Linked DNA regions of Homo sapiens. The protein of the gene in region 1 purifies or fractionates together with the protein of each later gene. This does not show direct contact. Each region holds a gene or a part of one and is shown in the gene's direction. Other genes may lie near its edges.

Region 1 (3,500 bases):
ATGTAGGCTAAATTCCTAAAAGTATAATAACTAGGGCAATTAATGTCATTTTAAAATCTTGATAAATAGGCTGGGTGAGGTGGCTCACGCCTGTTATCCCAGCACTTTGGATGGCTGAGACAGGCAGATCATCTGAGGTCAGGAGTTCAAGACCAGCCTGGCCAACATGGTGAGAACCTATCTCTACTAAAAATAAAAAAATTAGCTGGGCATGGTGGCCTGTGCCTGTAATCCTAGCTACTCGGGAGGCTGAGGCAGGAGAATCACTTGAAACCCGAGGTGGAGGTTGCAGTCAGCTGAGATTGCGCCATTGCACTCCAGCCTGGGCCACAGAGCAAGGCTCCATCTCAAAAAAAAAAAAAAATCTTGATAAACAGGCTGGGCACAGTGGCTCTCACCTGTAATCCCAGCACTTTGGGAGGCTGAGGTGGGAGGATCACTTGAGCCCAAGAGTTCAAGATCAGTCTGGACAACATACCAAGACTGTCTCTCCACACACACACACACACACACACACACACACACACACACAAACACATACAGAGTTGCCAGGTGTGTTGGCACACACCTGTAGTCCCAGCTACTCAGGAGGCTGAGGTGAGAAGATTGCTTGAGCCTAGGATTTTTGAGGCCACAGTGAGCCATGATCATGCCACTGCACTCTTCAGCCTGAGTGGCAGAGCGAGAGACCCTGCCTCAAATAAAAAAAACCTTAAAAAAAGAGAAATCTTGGTAAATAGAATCTAATTGTCCTACAAAGAGGCTAAACACTTCCACAACCGATATATCATATGCTGTGAATAGATCTCACACCCTTACCAACACTGCACTATTGGACTTTTTGATCTTTGCCAATCTGATTGGTAAAATTGGTATCTAGTTTCATTGACATTTCTTTATTATTAATACAGTTGAGCATCTTTTCCTATGTTTGTGAACTGTTGATATTTTTTGCAGTTATCTCCCTATATAAAAAACACTTTTTTTTTTTTTGGCTAGAGGAGCTCACTACATTGCCTACTGTGTCACTATGTTGCTGGTCTAGAACTCTTGGGCTCAAATAACCCTTCTGCCTAAGTCTCCCAAGTAGTAAAACAATATTTTAAATCAGTTATTTCCATGCTGCCAGAAAATTTTGATCAAGCCTTTGAATATTGCCCCTAGCATAGTGCTGGTCAGGACCTCAGAGGATGAGGCAGAAACAAGCTAAACTGTCAGTGTATCTTCTTTTTCTTTCAAGAAATCCCTGATTTCCCAGGGAATCTAGTCAGAAAGCTGTGTTACACTATTTATGATTATGTATATAACACTTTTTCTGGCTTGCAGAACTGATTTTGATAATGTTCTTTATTCAGGTTGAAGGTAATGAAAGGTTTTCTATCTGTTCTCATAAACTAGGAGACTTAATTATAATGGAAATAAAAATGGTGTCTTTGTGAGGAGCAAAGCCAAAGGAACACAGGTGGAAAATTAGCTATTTCAGCTATTACGAGAGTTTGTATCTTGTCTACTAATTAAACTATTCCATATAAGGGAAATAAAGAAAAGAACTGGAATGAATAAAGTGGTAGAAGTAGCAATAATACTCCCTTCAAAGCTATGACGATTTATTTGGAAAATTTTATTAAGTATTGTAAGCTGGAGCAGCTTAGCTATGAGTGAACTTGCACAATACAAAAAAGCAGAATAGCCCCTTTAGAAGCATTGTTTTCAGGAGACTTTGCAGTAGACTGATGATATGGAACACTGGAACACTGGCTTGTCTTACTTTAAAATGTGAATGGGACCTCGCCTTGTCCTAGAGCCTGCAGGCACTACTCTGCTGAATTTATGGTATGTCTGGTTGACAGGTGTAGTGGTGTTGAGCACTTTATTTTGGAAGTGATCGGGCGTCTCCCTGACATGGAGATGGTGATCAATGTACGAGATTATCCTCAGGTTCCTAAATGGATGGAGCCTGCCATCCCAGTCTTCTCCTTCAGTAAGGTAAGTACAGGGAGAGCCACATGGGTGGATGGAGAGTGGTCCTCTAGGATATGAGCATGAGATCTTTGTCCGGTGACATAGTCTGATGGATAATGGTAAGGATGAGGACTGAGGTCCAGAAATGGGTCTGTGTCTCTATTAGCATCACAGTGATTGAGCAAAAAGACAGAGGAGATGAAGTTGAGAGCTGGTAAGTAGTGTAAGATTGCTTGAGTGTCTATAGGGCTAGAGATGGAGGCTAGGGCGTGAGAGGCCTGAGAAACCTACAGGAATTAGAGGTGGGTCTTGAAGATCTTACAGAGCATGGGAGGAAGGGGTCCAAGAAAGCTTGGAGTTAGGGAACACCTTCATTCCAAAAGTTTGTTGAGCTCCTACTATGTATATATTCAGCCATAGTGCTGGGTATCAGCTGTCCCATCTGTCACCATATTCCGGGGGCCCAGGGTGGCTAAAAGTGAACCTGAAGGTGCCAGATAACTCCACACGGTGTGTGTACAAGCCGTGCATTGAAGGGATAGGCTGGAGATAGCCTAGAGGGCTATGCAAGGGGGTGATCTTTTAGACTCATCATGGAAGATTGGAGTAGCTAGGATACACCTGTGGGCTTGGGGAATTGGGGGCAAGGAATGTCTTGTCAGTGCTCAGGTTCATGTAAATGTTGTATCGGCAGGGATGGGCCTTGGTTCCCTAGAGACAAGGAAAGCATTTGGGGGTGAAGGCAGGAAGGCTAGAAGAGAGTGGATGGAAGATTCTATGGGGTAAGAGTGAATTGAGGAAAACCCCATGAAATTTGGGAAAAGGAACACTATTTCTGATTTGGTTTGTCTAAAGCAGAGGGACCTTTTATCCCCACTTTTTCTTTATCATAGTTTACTTTCTCCCTAGACTTGTTTTATTTCCTGTGTTGCAAGTGGGCAGAGGCCACATTTGTGTTGCATTTCCCATGGTCTAGCCTCATTTCTCGAAAGTGTTTGGTTCCATTGTTTGTCATGAAACTCACTCAGAAGAACAGATAGAGGCTCCCATGTAAGTCAGTAGGGACTTCGTGTTTGTTATCTATCTGTTGTTTCTATGGATAATAAAGTATGACCGTCGGTATACTAACTTTCCGTTCATCTTTACTTCCCTTCTGTTTTTTAAATCAGTGACTTCTAGTTTCCAAGGGAGAGTTTTACTCTGTCAACTTTATAGTTAATTGTGCAGCTTCTATTGAATAGCTGTTATGTTTAAGGTGCTTGATGAATCACATTTTTTACATATTTGAGAGACAGCAAACAGCATATTGCACATGTATTTCCAGTGGAAGAAATAGTAGAGTTAGAGGTTTATCAGTGGCCAGATTTTTAACAGAAGTAACCATAAAAAGGGAACAAATGGAGGCCAGGTGTAGTGGCTCACACCTGTAATCCCAGCACTTTGGGAGGCCGAGGCAGGTGGATCAAAAAAAAAAAAAAAAGGGGGGAACATATGGCTTTAAACTTTTTTCTTTTTTTTGAGGCAGAGTCTCACTCTGT
Region 2 (3,500 bases), on another chromosome or scaffold:
AGGAGAGAAGGGAGTCCTACTCCCAGTTGGGACTGTCCAGACTGTGGTGCTAGAGGTGGTGTGGGGAGCAGGAGGGTCATTCCCATCTCTGGAATGTGGATCCCGAGGGGTCAGAGCCCAAGGCCCACCCCAGACAGACCTCTGTCTCCCTCAGACACTGACCACTACTTTCTGCGCTATGCTGTGCTGCCGCGGGAGGTGGTCTGCACCGAAAACCTCACCCCCTGGAAGAAGCTCTTGCCCTGTAGTTCCAAGGTGAGGCCGCAGAGCCTGGCAGCCGGGGGCGGGGGGTGTATAGAGAACCTGCGCCCCATGCCAAGTGCTCCATACAGGGCTTCTCTTATCTCTTTCCATCTCCTCCAGGCAGGCCTCTCTGTGCTGCTGAAGGCAGATCGCTTGTTCCACACCAGCTACCACTCCCAGGCAGTGCATATCCGCCCTGTTTGCAGAGTAAGTCATGGGGAGTAGAGGAAGCTGCCATCCAGGGGCTCAGAGAAGGTACATGTAAAGCATGTGGTCAGTGTCTGGCTCAGGCTGAGTGAGTACTGAGTGGTAGATGTGATGACGGTTATTCAGGGCATTGGCCAAGCACCAAGAAAACAGTGGTTGCCTAGCAAGCACTGAATAAATATTTGTCATGGAAAATAGTGGTTCAGAACAATAGCTATGCGGGTGCAATTGCTAGCTCAGTCACTTGCCAGCTGGCGTAACCTTGGGTGAATCATTTCATTCCCCTGAGCTTGGTTTCCCACCCTGCCACATGACATTGATAGTAGAATCCACTCCTAGGGTTGTTGTGATAGTTTATCAAACTGATGCACATACAGCTGTCAGCACGGGGTCTGGCACGAGGTCAAGTGCTCAGGAGTGGGTGGTAGCAAATCGATGGATGTGAAGATACATAGATGAGGGATTGAGTCTGAGTAGGAGTCTTTTTGGGGGCTGTGTGGTGAGAGTGATACCCCCTCACTGCTGCCATCTGGCCCTTGTGATAGAATGCACGCTGTACTAGCATCTCCTGGGAGCTGAGGCAGACCCTGTCAGTTGTATTTGATGCCTTCATCACGGGGCAGGGAAAGAAAGGTAAGTTACCTTGGCAACTCATCTGTACCCACCCATGCCAGCCCTGCCTTATCTATGTGGACTAGGCCTAGGCCTGGCCCCTGCTCAGCCCTGCGCTCTGTTTCTCAGACTGGTCCCTCTTCCGGATGTTCTCCCGAACCCTCACGGAGCCCTGCCCCCTGGCTTCAGAGAGCCGAGTCTATGTGGACATCACCACCTACAACCAGGTAACAAGGTCTCCAGCCACACACACAAACACACCGCTGGTCCCCAGGACCAGCCTACCCTCTCTGCTTGCTTCTTAGCCCTGCCTTTGTGTCCCCAGGACAACGAGACATTAGAGGTGCACCCACCCCCGACCACTACATATCAGGACGTCATCCTAGGCACTCGGAAGACCTATGCCATCTATGACTTGCTTGACACCGCCATGATCAACAACTCTCGAAACCTCAACATCCAGCTCAAGTGGAAGAGACCCCCAGAGAATGGTGAGTGGGTGGTTGGTTGGACTGCTGGGTTGCAACGGCTACAGAGAAAAGACTCACAATCCCACGTCTTTGCCGTTAGATGATTGGGTTGTATTTAGACCAGATTTCCAGAGTCATATGCTGCTGACTGTAGCTATTCCAAGCTCTACGATTTTGGGTAGGTTCCTAAACTCCCCAAGCTTCAGCATCCACATCTGAAAAATAGAGTATACTTAGCAAATTGGATGAGATGATGTGAAAAATGGAGTTAGTTCATGCATTTGCTTAATCAACCAAATACTTTTGAATTCATACTAAGTGCCAGGCATAGAGTGTTGAATAAGACAGAGGACACTGCACTCAAGAAATATAAGTCTACTAGCTAGGGCAGGTGTCAGTTAATTAATTACAGTTGTGTTCAGTTCCCTTACCAAGGGAAAGAGCAGAATATCCTGAGAGGACCTGGATTGGGTTCGAAGGGGGCACGGTGTTCGTCACGTAAGCACTTCAATACTAGCAACCTATTGTCATCATCGCTTGTTGGCTGGGGAAGACAGGGATGATTCCAGAACCCAGATTGCCCAGTTTCAGTGGCAGGGCTGTTCCCCATCTACTCACTGGCTTGGGACTCTGAACATGGCCTGGGCAGGTGGGGTGGGGAGTGATTCTTACCTTTGGCAGCTGTTAACTGTTGATATTTCTTTACACAGAGGCCCCCCCAGTGCCCTTCCTGCATGCCCAGCGGTACGTGAGTGGCTATGGGCTGCAGAAGGGGGAGCTGAGCACACTGCTGTACAACACCCACCCATACCGGGCCTTCCCGGTGCTGCTGCTGGACACCGTACCCTGGTATCTGCGGCTGTATGTGCACACCCTCACCATCACCTCCAAGGGCAAGGAGAACAAACCAAGTGAGGACCTGAGTCCTGAACCAGGCCCCCAGCCCGCCCTCTCATGTCCTCTCCAGGTCCCCCAAACTCTCATTTCCCAGGGTAGTTCCTGAAGTACCTCTGAAAAGCTACACAGGCATAAAGAGTAAGGAATAGTTTCTCAAAACTGGAACGGGAGCCTCACTGTGCCAGGTTCAGAAGTAATTTATAAAACAGCAATAATTAAAACACATAATACTGGTGATTCTTAATAGGACTGTACAAGGACAGTAGCTTCCTTTTTCACTTACTTTTGCCTCCTTTCTGGAGCATTGGGTTTTGTGATGATTCATAGACTCTTTAAGGTAGGGAAAGGGTTTGGCAACGTTAGGCTTTTGAAGCTAGGAAGATAGCAGAGCTGGAGTAGATGGTGTTTTGCTTCCTTGGGAGGGGTAAAGAGGTACAGTTAATTAAATTTTTTTATTTCTATTTTTATTAAAATTTATTTTTATTTTCTATTATTTTTCTAAGGAGAAGATAATATTAGTGCTTCCTATTAGGTGCCAGGCATAGCACTAAAGCACTTGCCTTTCTTTGGTGTAGGGGGAGACTAGTAGTAAAGTAAAAGACCTCTGAGGAAGAGGTTGTACCATATCCCAAACGGCCAAACTTAAAAACCTTTCAGTACTTTAGTTGATTCCTATATTTTCAAACATACGGTGAATAGTTTCACTTATTTTCAGCACCATTATTTGTACCACCTTCAAAATCTCTATTTCAGACATCCTAACTGCATATTCTATAGGTTTTTCTGTTATTATTCTTTTAAATCTTCTCCTTTGGAAAATTTCAAACCCAAACCCAAACAGAATAGTGTAATAATCCCCTGTACACACCCTGCAGCCTTTTTTTTTTTTTTTTAAGAGACAGACTGTTGCTCTGTCAGCTATGCCGGAGTGCAGTGGCATGATCATGGCTCATTGCAGTCTCAGACTGCTCGGCTCAAGCAATCCTCCTACCTCCGCTTCCCTAGGACTACAGGCATGAACCGCCATGCCTTTAATTTTTTCACAGAGGCAGGGTCTTGTTATGTTGCACA
Region 3 (3,500 bases), on another chromosome or scaffold:
GCTGGTCTCAAATTCCTGACCTCAAATGATTCCACCCACCTCGGCCTCCCAACGTCCTGGGATTACAGGCGTGAGCCACCTCGCCCGGCCAATAGTTTCCTTTAATTTAGAAGATAATTCTTTTGCATTTTTTTCTTTTGTAACATCGGCATTTCTATAGAGTACCAAATAGATTCAGCTTAAACAGTTTTTGGCAAGAATACTATGTAAATGATATATTGCATCCCATTATTAGGCACATACGTCTTTTTGTCCCATGAAGGATCATGTTAAGTTTGATCAGTTAGTTAAGGTGATGTCTGGCTTTGTCCTTATCAAGTAAATACTTTACAGCCCATAGCATAGTACCCTGTGCATAATAGGTACTGGGTAAATATTTTCAGTAGAAAATAATGGAGACTAAGTTTTTGATCAGGGATATTCCTCATCTATTTTGCATTAGGTTTCTCTAGAACACAATTTTATTTCTAGGACAAAGAGGCATTTTGAATACATGCTTCAGTATATAAAGTATTTTAATAGGTGGTTGGGTCTTTCCTGACTGCTTTAATGTATTTCATTTGTTTCATGCTTCCAAAGCAGTATATTTAATGATAGATTTTTTTATAGGCTGAACATATGCAGAAGAAAAGGAGAAAACAAGAAAACAAAGATGAAGGTAAAAAGTGAGATTCTGAATTGACTCATTTTGACTATTTTCTGTGGTTTCACATCAGCAAAGCATATAGTTTTTTGTTGTTGTTGGTTTTTGAGAGTGGGCAACTCAAGGAAGTGCAAAGAGCTTTTTGCTTCTTATTCACATATTAAGATATGGTATATATCAGTAGTGATTGAATTTAAAATTGATAACAAATGTAGTTCATTTTGGGTGACTGATATAGTACTTACATTACACTTAACATTGATATTTTCAGTACTGGAAAGGTAGCAAAAAAGCATGTGTTGTTTTGCATGTAACCTATTATTTTTTGACATTTGCACTTTAGTATGTAGGATAACCCAAATAAAAATGTACCTGTTTGTCTCTTTCCCCATCCATTCCCCACCTCCTATAGCATTGCCGCCACCACCACCTCCTGAATTCTGCCCTGCTTTCAGCAAAGTGATTAACCTTCTCAACTGTGATATCATGATGTACATTCTCAGGACCGTATTTGAGCGGGCAATAGACACAGATTCTAACTTGTGGACCGAAGGGATGCTCCAAATGGTTTGTTTACCTGAAATATTTTCTCTACATCAAGTCCTAGAGTTCTTGGGGAGCTAGGGAAGATCTCAGGTCTAACTTCAGTTGGAACCACATCTAGAGCACCGGAAACATAGGGGTCATTAAAAATAGCTTACACACAGCACAAATTTTTTTTAGTGATCTCGTGTTTTTAGCATCCTTACTCTTGGGAACCATTTCTGTTTAATAAAACCCATGAAAACAAAAACAGGTGTACTTATGCTAATAAATTGACATGTTGTTATTGTGTCATGATTTTTTATATTTTTAATTTTACTTGAATTATAAGGAGACAGTATAATAAAATTTGAAGATAGGTCTAGACGTCAGTCTTGGGTTTCCCCACTTCCTATTTAAGGAGCAAATAATAATTTTCTCATTAGTAAAATGGATAAAAGTGTAATTATTCATAGAGGTAGGAGAATTAGCTAAAGTGAAAGCAGCTACTTTTCCTTGTTACTGTTGTAGATAAATACACGTTACTTAATTATGCCACGTCATGGTAGTTGTAACACCATATTTATTTATACCTGCCTAACTAAATGTTCCTTTTTCCTTGAGTATTGTTGGTCTACAGGTTCTAAATGCTGTCATTGCCATATGTGTGCCTCAATTTTTATTATAACACTGATAAATACATTCACTAGTAAATTTCAAACCATAGAGATATGTTTGAAACCAAGTTAAAATTTCTCTCCCTGAGTCCCAGTATGCTATATAGGACATAAGCATTGTTAAAGTTTTGTATATTCTGGAAATCATTGCACATTAGTGCATATAGATCTACTTATTCTTGATAGCTGCGTAGTCCATTGTATGGATATAATGTGTTTCAGTAGTCTCCTATTAATAGACATTCAGGTGTTTCTAGGTCTTTGCTGTAACAAAGAACAATAAAATGTACGTTCTTATACAAATGTTTTTGCATACCTAAGGGAGCGTATTTGTCATACTAATTCCTAATAGTTGGTATATACCTTTACATTTTTGATAGATGTTTTCAAATTGGCCTCCAAAAATGTTATACCAGTTTACTTTACCATCACCACTATGGTCAAAAGTGCCTACTTCCCAATACCTATGCCAGCTCTATATTTTACTAAACACCAAAATTTTTGCCACTGTAATAGGTGAAAAATAGGATGATCTTGTTTCAACTCATTTTTCTTTAAGTGAGGTTGAACTTTTTTTTTTTTTTTTTTTTTTTTTTTTGAGATGGAGTTTCACTTGTCACCCAGGCTGGAGTAGGCTGGAGTGCAGTGACACAATCTTGGCTCACTGCAACTTCCGCCTCTGGGTTCAAGCGATTCTCCTGCCTCAGCCTCCCAAGCAGCTGGGATTACAGATGCCCACCACCACACCTGGCTAATTTTGTATTTTTAGTAGAGACAAGGTTTCACCATGTTGACCAGGCTGGTCATGAACTCCTGACCTCAGGTGATCCACCCACCCAAACCTCCGAAAGTGCTGGGATTACAGAAGTGAGCCACCAGCTCCGGGCCAGGTTGAACATTTTTCATATGTGTATTCATCATTTCTCTTTCTGTAAACTGCTTAATGTGAACTGCTGAAACCTTTCCGTGTTTTTTACCTATCAGCTTTCTTATTTTTATACTTCTACTTAAAATAGATTTACCTTGCTAGGCATGGTGGCCCATACCTGTAATTGCAGCACTTTGGGAAGCTGAAGCAGGAGGATCACTTGAGCGCAGGAGTTTAAGACCAGCCTGGCCAACATAGTGAGATGCTGTCTATACCCCCCGCCCCCTCCAAAAAAAATTTAGCTGGGCGTGGTCGTGTGCACCTCTAGTCCCCAGCTACTCAGGAGGCTGAGGCAGGAGGATCACTTGAGCCCAAGAGCTTAAGGCTGCAGTAAGCTAGGATTGCCCCACTGCACTCCAACCTGGGTGACAGAGTGAGACCAGTCTCTGAAAAAAATTAAAATTAAATTAAAAATATATTTACCTGAAGAAGCGCAATTTTAAAGATCTCTTATTTTCCTCCTTCAGGCTTTTCATATTCTGGCATTGGGTTTACTAGAAGAGAAGCAACAGCTTCAAAAAGCTCCTGAAGAAGAAGTAACATTTGACTTTTATCATAAGGCTTCAAGTATGTTTGAGTATCACTCTTCAACACATTTGTCATTGAAAGTCTAGATCTTAAGGAGTTTTAATTTGTCAATCCTGAAAGTTTATATCTTACAGAGTTTTAATCTGTCAGTCCTTAAAACATAGGTAACCCTGAAATAATTTTTTTCCTAGCATTCTTAGTT
Region 4 (3,500 bases), on another chromosome or scaffold:
AACAGAAGTTACAATATGGTTGAAATAAATGTATTTTTTTAAAAAAAGATTTCTCTTTCCTTAATTATTAAAAAATATACAATTTTGTAGAAAATTTTAAACAAAGTATAAAGAAAAAAATAAAAATCATTCATAATCCTATCAAAGAAGCATTGTTAATTTTTTCTATATATCTTCTTTTTCCACGTGTATACTTGGAAATTAAATTTTCTAAAATAATTTTCAGGAAAAACAAATTTTAATTAATTGAGCTTCTACTAAATAGGACTGAAAAGCAAAACCTGGACTAGAATTCTCTCTCGGTGTGTGTGTGTGTGTGTGTGTGTGTGTGTGTGTGTCTGTGTGTACATGTGTATGTGCTGTGTATACATGTGTATGTGGTGTAGCGTTCCCCTGATTCTTAACTTATTACCAGTGGACAACCACCGTGGAACTAGAGTCTAGTCATTCTTAACCTTTTTGGGGGAATCACAGTCTCTTTTTTGAATCTGATGAAAATCAAGGACCGTTTTTACAGAAACGTTCTCATCTGTGCATACATGAGACATTTTGCATTGCATAGAATTTCCGAGGGTTCACAGATACTTTGAAGCCCAAAAGTGATCCACAGACCCCAGATTGAGAACTCCTCCGCTATGCCATGCTTAAGCTTATTTCTGTGTATCTTCTTTCTGAGGAGCAGGCAGATGGGTCATCTTTACAATGTGAAGTTCTTGGCATTTTTATTTTGTTTTGTTTTTCTGCACTACGATGGAGCAAGCAACACTGGAGGCAACTGGCTAAATGCAAACTCATGAAGCAAGACCAAAATGGCTGGATAGATAGATGCTGTTTGGTTTTGACAACCTAGAAATAACCTTGAAGAAATCCTATGGAGAAGTCTTAAAGAGGAAGATTGGATTTTGTAGACTCAAAGAATGTGTCATGGTTTGGCTTAATCTAAGCCATTTTTATTCTTCTTTTCTTGTGTTTGGGTCTATTATCTGTCTGTAGAATTTATACAGTGAGACTGCTGGGGAAAGTCTTATGTCTAATTATTTGCTGTGCTGTGTGGAGTGTACTGCAGACAGTCAATAAACAATCAATAGTAATTGTAGCCTGCCTCAGAGACAGGAGTTAGAAACTTCAACTGGCTTAGGTGCATGGTATTTTTCATTAATTTTCTTCTGCTAGTTTTTTTCTCTAATTTAAAGCCTAAATTTAAAGATTAAATAGAAAAGCTTTCTTTGCTTATGAGCACAAGTAGGCACTGTTTTTAAAAGAAGGAATATATAATCCCAGGTGTTTTACCTCTGTTAATGAGAAAGATGTCTGTTTGCTTCAGATTGAATGAGCAAAGAAGAGGACAAGGATATTTGCATGGTTAAATGCCTATGAGCCCTTCCTTCAGAAAGTAATATTCCCCTGATGTCAATTACTTTTATACGGACATCTGGATGTTTATCATGAGAGTGTACAGATGTCAACTTTTTCAGTATTATAGCTGGAAATGTGGTGATAACTTGACTTTGATTTGAGTAAACATAAAATATCTAACATTTAAAGTCAGAAGTTCACTTCAGGAAGGGGTTTAAACTGACATTTATTAAAAAGAATGGTTCCTTGGAAAAAACATCAGAACCATCCCTAAAGATACAGTCACTCTGATAAAGTAAACAGAGTCCCAGTTATGCTCTGTGTAACAAATAACAGAACTTGAACATGACATTTATCTGTTCCTTAAACTTACAGAAGCTGGCTCTGAAGATATTGACATACTTCCCAATGGTCTGGCTTTTTTTAGTGTGGTGAGTGTCTTCTTCCTTCCCCAAATTCAGCAGAGGAGATACAAGGGTATTTGATGAGGGCTGCAGAACAGTAAGTTGCTTTTAAAATTCATTTTCCAAAATGCATTCTGAAGAAAAGAGAGGTCAAACAAGATCTTGGAAAACTTCCTCCAGCTTTTCTAAATGTAGAGATGAAGACTCTTTGCCCATTGAGATAGTGTTCTTTATTTCCCCATTGCATTGCACTAAAATATTCCAATGCAATCTGTGTTTTGTTTTGTTTTTTCTTTTTTAATTTTTTTTATTTTTTGAGACGGAGTCTTGTTCTGGTTGCCCCGGCTGGAGTGCAGTGGCATGATCTCAGCTTACTGCAACCTCCGCCTCCCGGGTTCAAGCAATTCTTTTGCCTCAGCCTCCCGAGTAGCTGGGATTACAGGCGCCCGCCACCATGCCCGGCTAATTTTTGTATTTTTAGTAGAGATGGGGTTTCGCCGTGTTGGCCAGGCTGGTCTCAAACACCTGACCTCAGGTGATCGCCTGCCTCAGCCTCCCAAAGTGCTGGCATTACGGGAGTGAGCCACCACGCCCAGCGCAATCTGTGTTTTAAATGTGCACTATTAAGAGGGATATTTGAGGTCTTACTGTGGATACTCAATACTAACATTATACTATTTTAAATACAGCATCTACTCATCTTTCTATTACTATTCAACTTGAAGCAAATATTCTTGCCATTATTATTTATTTTCAAATATTATACCAACCTTGCCCTTTTGCTTTCTTTCTTTTTTCCCCTGAATAGCCAATCATAAGTGGAAAGTCATTGAGTTTATTTACACCCTTCATTTTGCCTTGATTCTTGTAAGCTGAAAAACAATATCCTTTCTGGGTATACAATAGAAAGACTTTAAAAACAATTGGCTTGTGAATATTGTTGTGAATATTGTTGAAACTAGCTTGTAACAATGTCCATTCTAATTGGAAATCCAGATAAGGGGACAGATGAGGAGGTTCTGACCACCTACCTCCCTGGCTTGGGCAGACATAGGAGTTCTTGGCATCTTCATAGGTCCAGTTTTTCTGGAGGAAGAAGTAACCAACTCTGACACCTGACTGTAATTATTCCATTTCCTCTCAACATCCATTATTTTCAGGCTCTGAGACTCAAGAGGGATGTGAAATACTGGGAGATACTTAGAAGGGAGTCACCACACTAATAAAATAGTTGTTAGACTTATGAGAAAGGTGAGAGAACTCAGGTTGGAGTAGAATGAGAATTAGAACACTCTTCAGGTTCCTGATGGTTTTTATGTGAAAGACAGTGAGCAGCTGGTTATTACCACTGAGGCAATAAAGAGATACTGTGGGCTTTAGCAGAAACACCAGTATATGTATTTAGTTTTTAAAATAAGGTTTTAAAAGGAATGTTTTATTTAATTGCCTACACAGAATGAATAAAGTGATATTTATAGTAGGACTCTGGGTTTGTTTAGGAGCACATGCTTGCACATGTGTGGCTTAGGAAAAACCACTGGGACCACTAGTCTAAAATATTCATAAGTAAAGATGCAAACATTCTGAATAAAGTAGAAGGCAGTTGCATTGATTTTTTTATTTGTTTATTTGTGTTTTTTGTTGTTGTTTTGCAAGGATGTGTTCTTGGAGATTTTTATAATCTAGAATTCACCTATTTCAAGATTTCTCTCCAGCCCCCATAGTAATAAATCTGAAGTA

Evidence for each region. Proteins that work in one complex are often made in the same cells at the same time.
Region 2: the proteins of POGLUT1 (region 1) and PIGT purify together in Homo sapiens (affinity purification with mass spectrometry; 2 studies listed by BioGRID and IntAct, with this or other methods). This does not show direct contact.
Region 3: the proteins of POGLUT1 (region 1) and UBR1 purify together in Homo sapiens (co-immunoprecipitation; 2 studies listed by BioGRID and IntAct, with this or other methods). This does not show direct contact.
Region 4: the proteins of POGLUT1 (region 1) and PON2 purify together in Homo sapiens (affinity purification with mass spectrometry; 3 studies listed by BioGRID and IntAct, with this or other methods). This does not show direct contact.

The regions. Positions count from the first base shown.
Region 1 is NC_000003.12:119,475,463-119,478,962, forward strand, and holds part of POGLUT1 (protein O-glucosyltransferase 1 precursor), read left to right. Parts: intron 1-1,850; coding exon 1,851-1,986; intron 1,987-2,871; exon of another isoform or gene 2,872-3,012; intron 3,013-3,500. UniProt on the Homo sapiens protein: Dual specificity glycosyltransferase that catalyzes the transfer of glucose and xylose from UDP-glucose and UDP-xylose, respectively, to a serine residue found in the consensus sequence of C-X-S-X-P-C.
Region 2 is NC_000020.11:45,419,141-45,422,640, forward strand, and holds part of PIGT (GPI-anchor transamidase component PIGT isoform 1 precursor), read left to right. Parts: intron 1-154; coding exon 155-255; intron 256-332; exon of another isoform or gene 333-363; coding exon 364-450; intron 451-995; coding exon 996-1,083; intron 1,084-1,191; coding exon 1,192-1,289; intron 1,290-1,387; coding exon 1,388-1,553; intron 1,554-2,242; coding exon 2,243-2,443; intron 2,444-3,500. UniProt on the Homo sapiens protein: Component of the glycosylphosphatidylinositol-anchor (GPI-anchor) transamidase (GPI-T) complex that catalyzes the formation of the linkage between a proprotein and a GPI-anchor and participates in GPI anchored protein biosynthesis.
Region 3 is NC_000015.10:43,022,539-43,026,038, reverse strand, and holds part of UBR1 (E3 ubiquitin-protein ligase UBR1), read left to right. Parts: intron 1-609; coding exon 610-658; intron 659-1,055; coding exon 1,056-1,210; intron 1,211-3,237; coding exon 3,238-3,337; intron 3,338-3,500. UniProt on the Homo sapiens protein: E3 ubiquitin-protein ligase which is a component of the N-end rule pathway. Recognizes and binds proteins bearing specific N-terminal residues that are destabilizing according to the N-end rule, leading to their ubiquitination and subsequent degradation.
Region 4 is NC_000007.14:95,414,529-95,418,028, reverse strand, and holds part of PON2 (serum paraoxonase/arylesterase 2), read left to right. Parts: intron 1-1,731; coding exon 1,732-1,787; exon of another isoform or gene 1,788-1,840; coding exon of another isoform or gene 1,841-1,857; intron 1,858-3,500. UniProt on the Homo sapiens protein: Capable of hydrolyzing lactones and a number of aromatic carboxylic acid esters. Has antioxidant activity. Is not associated with high density lipoprotein.